2 separate regions of the Homo sapiens genome follow, and region 1 is linked to region 2. The links come from fine-mapping of genetic effects on plasma protein levels. A gene starts in region 2. The other region holds a variant in brackets. All regions are shown on one strand. Distances are from middle to middle.

Region 1 (5,378 bases), 190 kb after region 2:
AGGCGTTTCTCTGGTGTATATTCCCAGGCGTCAGTTGGATGGATCATACAGAATATAAATACACCCTTGGTTTCTCTAAGTATTGCTAGATTGTGTCTGTACCAGTTAACTCTCACATGCCTTTTTTCCCCTAAATTCTTGCCAACACTTGGAATCATTCAATTTTATAATATTTGCTACTCTGATGTCCATAAAGTGGTATCTTACAGTTGCTTTAGTTGGTCACGTTGGTATTGGTCATATTGGTATTGTCGGGTTTTGTACTAGATTGTAATGGGTGTGCCTTTCTTGTCTTCTCTCTTTGTTCCCTTCATTTGGACAGGAATTAACTTTTCTAGTTTGTTTACAGACCCTTAGCTCCAAGGTCAGATATTTGTCTGTTGGCCTTTAGCCCCATACTCACTCTCTTATATTCTCCTCTGGAAGACAGGTAAGCAGAAAGCCACATTCCCCAGACTTCCTTGACAGCTAAAGTTAAATTTGGTTCTGCCAATCTGGGGGAACTGCACCTGACTGGCAAGTAGAAATAAGGGTGGGGCCATTGTTTCTGACAGTGCCTCAGCTGCAGCAGCAGAGGTAGGTGGCTCCTGCTCAATGTCAGCCCTGTGGTTTCAGTGGCACTGGTGGACAATGGCTCCATGGTTCCAGCAGTGACCCCAGTGAGGGTGGCTCATACACTCTCTCCCAGGTATGCTAGCAGATCCCTGAGCTCTGGGTAGAACACCCTTTCCCTTTTGCTCCTCCAAACATCTTTAGAATCAACGCCCCACATTAAATCCCTTTCAGTTTGAATGATCTAAAATTATTTCTGTCTTCCCGACTGGGCACTGACTAACACATTTCCAGTATTCTTATCATCCTCCTAGAATGACCTTTTGTCCTACAGCAGCATTTCAAAGCATGTCCTTGCAAGATAAACATTCTTAGACCTTGCATCCCTAAGAATATCTTCATTTTGCCCCTTGCATTTCAGTGATAATGTATCTGGGTATAAAACCCAGGAGCAAAATTCTCGTGCTTTGGAAGTATGGCTGCACTGTCTCCTTGCATCCGGTGTTGCTATTGAGAAGTGTGATGACAGCTTATTCTTGTTCCTTTCAAGGTCATTTGCTCTTGCTCTCAGGAATCTTCTTTTAAGTTCTTAAATTTCCTGATAATGTAATGTATCTAGGTGTTGATTTTTTTTTCTTATCTCTACTGTACAACACTGGCGAAACCCCTTCAATCTAAAGCTTTTATCTGTATTTCTATGTAGATTATCATTAATTCAAAATAGTTCTCCACTACTGTTTATTGTTTCTCTCTCATTCTGAGACTTTACTTTTTTTTTTTTTTTTTTTTTTAATTGAGACAGGGTTTCACTCTGTGACCTAGGCTGGAGGCCGGAGTGCAATGGTGCAATCACCGCTCACCGCAGCCTCGACCTTCCCAGCTCAAGCGATCCTCCCATCTCAGCCTCCTGAGTAGCTGCGACCACAGGCATGCATCACCACATCCAGCTAATTTTTCATTTTTTTATAGAGACAGGGTTTCGCCATGTTTGCCCAGGCTCATTCTGAGATTGTTATCATGTTGACATTTCTATTTTTATATGCCATATCATTTAATTCTCTTTTTTATGAAGTCCTCATCTTTTTTTTTCAATTTTTAGGCCTGAGGGCCTCTTCCATCCTTGTCAAGGGTAGTGCTAACCTTTTGTCCTTTCAAAAACACTGCAGTCCTTCTCTTTCTTACTGCTGCCTAGGGGTTTGAGACTTCCAGGTCATTGATTAGTTAATCCAAAGTTTACATTCTGCTCTTCAATCCCTTTATTGAGTTCTTCATTTCATCTATTGCTTTCTTATTACCCAATTCTCTAGTTGAATATTCTTTGTGATGCTCATTTCTTTTTGCTATTTCTGATATTTTTATCTTTTCCCCCGTTTGTGGCTATTTATGTTTGTTTTATATTCTTATGTCTCTGGTCCACTAATTCTAACTTCCTTTGCTATAGGTTGTTCAGCTTATCTTCATTTTATAGCAATCAAATTCCTCTATTTATCCATATTTTTCCCCCATGATGTATTCAGCACATCTGCTGGCTTGGCTAGCACAGTGGCTCTGGACGGAGGGACCAATCAAAGTCACCTAGGTCTTAGATTGATCCTTTCCTCAGAGTTTAAAAAGGGGTATAGAGAAATGTGACCAATCCCTTGAGGCCATTTCAAACTTCACCTCCACTATGACACACAGCTGCAAACATCCCCAGCCAGGTGCTTCTGCCCTCCAAGAACCCCCTTTTCTTCCACCTGGGATACTGCTCTGCTTAGAGGGCGACATCCCTCACTTGAAATCTCCTGGCCCACTGGGTGGAGACAGTGAGATGAGGGAGGAGAGAATTCTCAGGAGCCAGACCTTCTACACAGCCCTAGTAGTCACTTCCCAACAGCTGGGCTCCCACAGAATCACACTAAGGCCAGGCGGTTGCCACTGTGTTCCTGCTCCCACAGAATCTACAGGGCAGGCAGTGAACACCTTCCTACTTATTCTCTTTCAGTTTATCCCAAAATACCACTTTTGTCATGTCACTTCCTTGCCTAAACACCTTCCATGGGTCTCCTTATCTATATTTAAAAAAAAAAAAATGTCCAGTATACAAGGCCTTCTCCAATTTACCCCTTTATTTCCTGAATATCTTTTTCTATTTGGCATCCTCAAATTTACTTTGCTGTCCTATCTTTAGGTAGCCATCACAGCATAACCTCTTATTCATAGCAGAGGCATAAAATTATACCTCTTAATTGATTGTGCTA[G/C]CCCATAGGCCAATGGTATTTTTTAAAATGGCAAAATAATTGTTCTTGGTTCAGAAAAAGAAAAAAGTCTCTTTCATATGCAAAAAGAGGGCACAAGTTACCATCACTTGTACATGTGTTAAGCATTTTCACAATGTCAGAGAAAGGTCTGCAATAGTGAGTGAGCCAGACTCACTTATTTGATCTCTCTTTGAATCAAGGTTTCACATTTTTAAGATGTCTTAGTAGTGTGCAGCTAAGGAACAGGCTTAGGAAGTTGACCTCATGATATTGACCCCATGAGCAGTATTTCAACAAACAGGAGCTAGCCTGTGGGAAGCATGAAGGCACTAAAGGATGATGTAAGCTGTCTAAGTCTCCAATCTACTACCTTGAGTTTTGGCCTCAGGACCAATGTAGCAATTTGCAATTATGATCCCCTATCCTCAATCATGAAAATGTGTCAGTTCAATGGGAAGTAAAATGGGCTTTTAAATAAAGAGGGCTAGATAAACTCGTGCATCACAAACAAAATACATGCCTGCTTCCAAATGGAGAAGTAACTGAAAATGTCCAGGCAATTGGACTAGCTTTCTTTTCATGTCTCCACCATTTGTCTTTGGAACCTGAGTCATTTCTATGTCAGCTTGCCCAGGTGGCCTGGAGAACATAAGGGTTGCCAGCCAGGACACTAACTCTTTAAAGGTCTGTTTATGTCTGCATAACTAACAGTGCTTATGTGTACTCAGGAGGAAATGCCAAGCTAACAAGGAAGACCACGAGTCCACAAAATTTTAATTTCTAGTTTTAGGAGAAATTAACTTCCACATTCATGTTTTTGTATTATGAATTTGCATGACAACTTAAAAGTCTGCCATGGTATTTATGGTAATTTCATTACAAACCACATTTTCATCTTTTAATTTCTTTCCTATTTATAATTATACAGCTATAATTAAAAGGTATTACAATGACACGCTATCCTCACTAAAAGCCTGGCCTGCCAGACTTATTACATTCAAGATATTTCTCCAGCTTTATTTCTTTTCTCTCATTTTGGAAGAAGGGGAGGGGAGGGAAGGAAGGCAGTGGAGACTTTGGTCATTATAACCTCAAATCTTTTCATCAACTTCTCTTTGTTCCTTCAAAAAAAAATAGGATTTTTCCAAACAGTCCCCCAACTAAATGAAATGTTTTGATGTAATAGTTTCCATGTAAGCTTCTCACCACATCTGAAGTGATGCTCACACAGACTCACTAAGACCATGCAAAAAACTTCAAGGATGGCTGAGACCTGGATTAAATTGTCTTCCAGGGCGAGTGCCAGCAGCCTCTGCCCCCATGGCTCAAAGGGTCTCACAGGCTTAACACCAAGGCTGAGGCACCTCTTACCTTTCTCTTTCAGAACATAGAAGTTACTTGTGTATAAAGACTTTCTTCCATTCCAATGACTTATCGCTCACAAGTCCAAGAAAATAATCTGGAGGCAGGGAAACTAAGTGTCTAAGGCCAAGCCTCAGCTGAGAAGAGTGCAGTGAACTGATCATTAATTACCTCCATATCTTCAAAGAATGTTGAAACTGTGCAGCCAAGCACAGTCATTGCCCTCAACGAGTTCATACCTGAGCTGGAAGAAGGATGCACATCTACCGTTTGTTGCCAAACTACTATTCATCTTTCCGTTAGAGAACCAATGTTCTCCCACCCATGACACCCTGGTGGGACTATCCATCACTGAATGTCACCTACTTTGAAGCCAAACACTTTGAGCGAGACCAACAAAATTACTTCAGGTAAAAGAGTCCTGGGGCAATAAGCCACTGTTTTTATGATTGCTGCTATAAACATGGCCTCACATTGGGCCCAGATTACCAGACTCCCTCTTCTCTCACAAAAAATTCTTCTTGGGATCCTTTAGGATCTTTTCTTTCTGGTGACCTTCATTGAGATCATCTCAATCCACTAGAAGGTTGTCTATCAAAAACGTAGGGGTCGAAATCTTGATCCCATTCCTCATGAAAGGACCCTCATTCCCTCTCCACAGTGATCTTCTGTCAAATCACAAGGAAAGGTCCTCCTTCCTTGGGGCACTTCTAGGGCAAGAGATAACAAGTTGCCATAGATTCAGAGTGGTTTCTCACAGAAGTAACAGAATCTCCTCAAAATGATTTGCTGTCTGCCCCTAGACCAATGCTTTGCTGCCTTAGCTCTACATTGGTGTTATGGACTGAACTGTGTCCTCCCAAAATTCATATGTTGAAGCCCTAACACCCAGTGTGACTGCATTTGGAAACAATGTCTTTAAAGAGGTAATTAAGGTTAAATGAGGTCATAAGGGAGGAGCCCTGATCCAAGAGAACTAGAGTCCTTATGAGAAGTGGAAGAGACACCAGAACTCTCTCTCCATGCACACAGAAGAAAGACCATGTGAGGACACAACACAGAGACAGCCACCTGCAAGCTAAGAAAAAGAGGCCTCACCAGAAAGCAACCCTGCCAGCACCTTGGTCTTAGACTTTTATCCTCCAGAACTGTGAGAAAATAAGTTTCTGTTGTTTAATCCACACAGTGGCATTTTGTTATGGCAGCCTGAGCAGACTCATACAC
Region 2 (5,306 bases):
TTTTGTTATATAAACTTTCAGACGTTATAGAAAAGGTAGACAGTTATAGTCTATCCATAGTTATATATAGCTATTATATATGGTAGTATAAGAAGAGAGTTTGTTTTTTAAGCATAATCCTCGCCAACTTGCCCTTTTCATTTACTATCTCATGTCTCCCTCTCCACAGCAGTGTAGTACAGGGGTATCTTTTCCTTCCTTCTCCAAGACACAGCTTAGGGTGCAGCTGATATGCACCAGTCTCAGTCCCAATGCCTGCAGTCACCAAGATAGTTCTGGCAACTTGCCTGGGTGAATGAATGGCTGGACACTGACAAGACCTACCTCTAGAGCTGTGTTGCCCTGGTTCCCACACAACTGCACTTCCAAGATGAGCACTGGCTTCAGCCCCCTCAGATACCTTCTTCTTCCCTGTCCCTCCGGGTCTCCTCCAGGATATGCATGGCAAACTCAGGAGCCTACAGAAGCCTAGATGGTCAAGTAAAAGAGCAAAGCATGCTGGATGGAAGAGTAGTGCAACTGTAACGACTGGGCACGCTAGTCCTCTTTGAAGGGCAGTCACTACTCACACCATCTGATTCTTTCTAAGAAGGGAATATTGTCAGATCTCTACATTTTCAAGAGCAGCCAGAAATCAAATTTTTAATTAAAAAATCTGCTTTTCAAATGTCAGCAGCTAAGATTTTTTAAACATATTCAAGTCTTGATCTTTAATTTTTAAAATAAGCTTTATATTTTAGAACAGTTTTAGATTTACAGCAAAAATGGCAAAGATAGTACAGAGAGTTTCCATATACCCCCACACCCAATTTTCCCTGTTATTAACATCCTATATTAGAATGGTACATTTGTCACAATTAATGAGCCAATATTGATACAGTGTTATTAGTAGTTGACTTACATTTCCTTAGCTTTACCTAATGTCTTTTTTCTATTCCTGGATGCTGTCCAGGATAGCACATTACATTTGGTAGTCATGTGTCTTTAGGTTCCTCTTGGCTACGAGTTTCTCAGACTTCCCTTTTTTGTTTGATCACTGACAGTTTTGAGGCATACTGATCAGGAATTTTGTAGAATGTCCTTCAGTTGGGTTTTTCTGATATTTTTCTTGTGACTAGACTGGGGTTATGGGTTTTCAGGAGCAAGATCACATAGGTAAAGTACCATTCTCATCACATCATATCAAGGGCACATACTATCACATGACTCATCACTGTTGATGATCTTGATCACCTAGTTGAAGTAGTGTTTGTCAGGTTTGTTACTTTCCCCACTTTCCACACTGCACGCTATAAAAGGAAGTCACTCTGCACATCCCACACTTCAGGAGTGGGGAGTTACGCCTCGCCTCTTTGAGGACAGCGTCTCTAAACAAATTATTTGGAATTGTTCTCAGCACAATCTTCCATAACCAGGTCCTACCTACATTTTGGGCTTCATCCCCAGCTGCTCCCTCCCTCTCCCATTCCAGGCTCATCATACTACAGGTCAGCACCTGCAGATCCTGCATGGTGCCATTCTTTCTCATGTCTCTTGCTCTCACTATTGCCACTGTCTATGCATGGATGTTCCTTATCTTTCCCCCTTGCATGCTCAATTCCCCTTTGACCTTCAAGACTGCTCAAGTATGCTCTACTCTAGAAAGTCTTCCCAGAACCCAGTCTGCCTCGAAGGATTTTCCTTGAGTCCCAAAATACCCTGTGCATTTTCCCACCATGGCGTTCATTCCTCTCTATTGTTTATTCTCAACACACTCCCTTGTTAGACTGAGAGTTCTTTGACAGCAGGGCTGTCTTTTTACTTACCTTTCTATCCCCTGTGCTTATATACGGCAAACATCAGACACCGGGTAAATATATTTTGAATGAATGAATGAACAAACAAATGTGCAGAATTCTAGATACAAGATTTCTTCTATGAATTTCCAGTCATTCTGCCTTATCAACAATCACCACATTCTGCCTTGTATTATGGTTGTTTAGGTACTTGTCTTACTTATTTTAGTAGCTCTATTGCTCTTTGAAGGCTATGATCATGTTTTATTTGTACTATAATTTCCAGGTCAGTGTCTTACATATAATAGCTGTTTAATAAATCTTTGTTGAATAAGCAAATGAGTTAATGAACAAATAAATGAAGCTGCCTGCACACATAATTGATGAGAGGGAATCGCACAAGGAAAGGAAGCATAATGAACTGGAAAATAAATGGCAGAATTTTCAAACGAAATGAAGTTGACTTGCCTAGCACATTATTTCCAAATTTTTATCATATGCTAGTAAATATTGTCACATGTTTGTTTAAAGAAATTTAAAAACTTAAATCAATTCTTAATGAAATAGCTACATAACTGCTCCTTAACAACAGAAAGGAGAGTCAAGCCTGATTCATCTCTTAGAGATAGACCTCCCTACAAAAAGAACCACGCTGCTACCCTTAAAAATCACTGTTGTATAACAAAACATGTGTTCCTTTGTCCCCTTTAATAACCAAACGAGTTTATATCAAAAATTTTTTAAATAGCATTTCTCTTTATCTATCTCTAATAAAATATAATTTTTCTAAGTGTCCTGTGCTGGAGAGAAGTAAACAGAAAACAACCATTCTGGAAGAAAAAAAACGTCCTTATAGCAAGATAGATTACCATTGTTATCAACACCAAATTCAACTGCTGCAGAAGAACCTCACTCAGAGGAAACCGAGTTAGGAGAGAATTTAGTTCCTCTTTTTCTTGCACCAAAAAATAAATTTTATGAATATTTCTCAATTAGTATTTGATTAGGAAAACCTGTAGAGGGCGTCCTTGCACCAAGAGCCATAGAGGTTTGCGCAGAACTAGAAAAAAATGTTAAAACCACTCGCTCCGAGTTAAAGAAAATGCCTATTGTGCTGTGAAATTATTATCTTTACCTGGGTGACACTGGCATTATAACATTAAAGTGTTTTAAAAGTAGCCTAATGTTCATACATTATATACATGAATATTCATAGAAATAAAAAATAATGCAATGTTGGGAAACAGGTAAATATTTTTATTGTAAAGGAAGAATCACTGTGAAGCTTTGGATGCAAATAGACTTAATTATGATTTATTTATCAGTATGAGGTATAAGTTACTAAGAGAATGGGCTTTGAAATCAGAGTGTCTGGGATTTGAACCCTTACTCTCATTTACCAGCTGGATATCCACAGTCAACTTACTGGACTTTTTGAGCCCTCTTTCCTCGTCAGTAAAATAAGAATAATAGTAGTACCTACTTAAGAGTTGTGAGGATTAAGTAAGCACTTAAAATAAAAGTACTTTAAAAATTAAGACACTGCAAGTTCAAATCAGTCATAGACTTCTTGTCTAATTCCTTTTTTCCTTTTTTTTTTTTCTATTGGTTGGTTGTATAGCTGCAAATATTTCCTCATTGGAAATCTATATTCTCAGAACCTAACACTGATTTAACTTGATGCCTGCACATGTCCACCATCTCTTCTGTTGTTTCTGTTTGTTTTTCCCTCTTGAGGCATCTGCTACTCTATAAAGGACTGATTGAAACACCACGCCCAGCCCCAGACATTTGATCCTTGAGGCATTTGTCACAGCTTCGGGTACTAAAGAACAAACACAAGTAAATGAACCTTTTATGAGTCCGAAGGCTAAGTTTTTTAATTAAAAACAAAACAAAACAAAACCCTTTTGCTTCCGTTTTCTTTGTGCATCCGAGGAATTAGGCAGGAGGCAAAAATCAGTTCTTTCTGCTGGGCCAGGTGGATAGGTTATGCTGCAGCCCACTGCCGGCCAAGCATGCTTCTCACAGACGAGGCCAGAGCCTTGGTTTTGCCCCCACGCACCTGTGAATTCGGCAACTTTTAAAAAATTATTTTATTTATTTATTTATATATTTTTTGAGACGGAGTCTCGCTCTATCGCCCAGGCTGGAGTGCAGTGCCACGATCTTGGCTTAATGCAACCTCCGCCTCCCGGTTCAAGTGATTCTCCTGCCTCAGCCTCCCGGGTAGCTAGGACTACAGGCCCCCGCCACCATGCCCAGCTAATTTTTGCATTTTTAGTAGAGACGGGGTTTCACCACGCTGGCCAAGCTGGTCTCGAACTCCTGACCTCAGGTGATCCGCCCGCCTTGGCCTCCCAAAGTGCAGGGATTACAGGCGTGAGCCATCGCGCCCGGCCGAATTCAGCAACTTTTAAAAAATATCAGCAAACGTGAAGATATCCACGATGTTAGAGGAGCCCTACCCCGGAGGGTCAGGTACAGCTATCGTCCAGGGCCCAGGGCACTCTTCCGGGCACTGCCGGGTTATCAGGGAGACAGACGGGAATCCCCAAATGCTGGGTGTCGGGCAAGTACCAGCTGGACGCCCTGCGCCTCGAGCCAAGGCCAGCGCCTGCCATCGGCACCATCGGACAGTCGAGCCTCGAGTTTTAACTGCTTGGGAGCGCGCAAAGTGCCAGCCTATCGCAGAACGGAGCGCATAGGGTTGGCGGAGAGAGGAATCCTACTGGCTGAAAGGGAGACGAAGGGCAATTTGCGCCTTCAGTGAGCGCCGGAGGAGGAACAGGAGTCATCACCTCATCATCATCATCATCATCATCATCACCATCACCATCACCATCATCAGCACTCAGTCAAGCCCAGCGTTGTCTGCTCTCCCCATTTCCCTCCCCCGAAGCCTCCCTTGGCCCGAGGAGGTGGCGAGTGATGTCCCAGGGGTCTCTGAGTGCCCTTCTCCGGGTCCGCCAGCCCTACACGCCCACTTCGCGGGCGCTCCACTGGGCGCACCGCACTGTGAATGCAGCCTCGGGGGTCCCTCGCGGCCCCGCCCCCGGGGGGGCCCCACAGCGCCCCCAAGTGGCGGCCGCCCAGGCCTCGCGGGCCCCACTCCTCGCTCGCACCTCGCTCGCGCCAGCCCTTCCCGCTCTTCTGTTCTCGCTCTATTTGCCCCGCTGACTGCTGGCCTCGCCAGCTTTGCCAGTCTTACGTCTCTGCCGCCCCCACTCCCGCCCGCGCCCCATCTTCTTGCGCGACTCGCGCCCGCTGGTCCCCCCCTCCTCCTCCCGCGTCCTGCCTGCCCCCTCCTCCTGCTCTCGCAGGCTCCTTGGCACCCAGGCCGGGAGGCGACGCGCCCAGCCGTCTAAACGGGAACAGCCCTGGCTGAGGGAGCTGCAGCGCAGCAGAGTATCTGACGGCGCCAGGTTGCGTAGGTGCGGCACGAGGAGTTTTCCCGGCAGCGAGGAGGTCCTGAGCAGCATGGCCCGGAGGAGCGCCTTCCCTGCCGCCGCGCTCTGGCTCTGGAGCATC

Alleles and levels. Positions count from the first base shown, and alleles are read on the strand shown. Strength reflects both the effect of a copy and how common the allele is.
For the plasma level of the protein whose gene starts at base 5,142 in region 2, allele G in region 1 goes with a lower level than allele C (weak association).

Evidence for each region. A credible set is the group of variants that fine-mapping cannot tell apart. PIP is the chance, under the fine-mapping model, that this variant and not a neighbour inherited with it causes the effect. Protein levels are from antibody-based Olink assays in UK Biobank. Linkage for the fine-mapping came from a reference panel and not from the study's own genotypes, which makes the PIPs less certain.
Region 1: its variant is the best candidate, but not a certain one, in a credible set for the plasma level of the WIF1 protein (UK Biobank, PIP 0.65).

The regions. Positions count from the first base shown.
Region 1 is chr12:64,935,358-64,940,735 of GRCh38, reverse strand. The region is part of intron 2 of LINC02389 (long intergenic non-protein coding RNA 2389); the gene reads right to left. The region is part of intron 3 of LINC02231 (long intergenic non-protein coding RNA 2231); the gene reads left to right. It also overlaps the pseudogene RNU6ATAC42P. Among named protein-coding and RNA genes, the nearest start is that of LINC02231, 54 kb to the left of the region's middle. The variant G/C (reference allele first, on the strand shown) is at 2,793.
Region 2 is chr12:65,121,141-65,126,446 of GRCh38, reverse strand. WIF1 (Wnt inhibitory factor 1) reads left to right here and starts at 5,142. Exons shown (of 10, transcript NM_007191.5): 1 at 5,142-5,306. The coding sequence starts at 5,256. RefSeq lists a silencer at 4,822-4,981.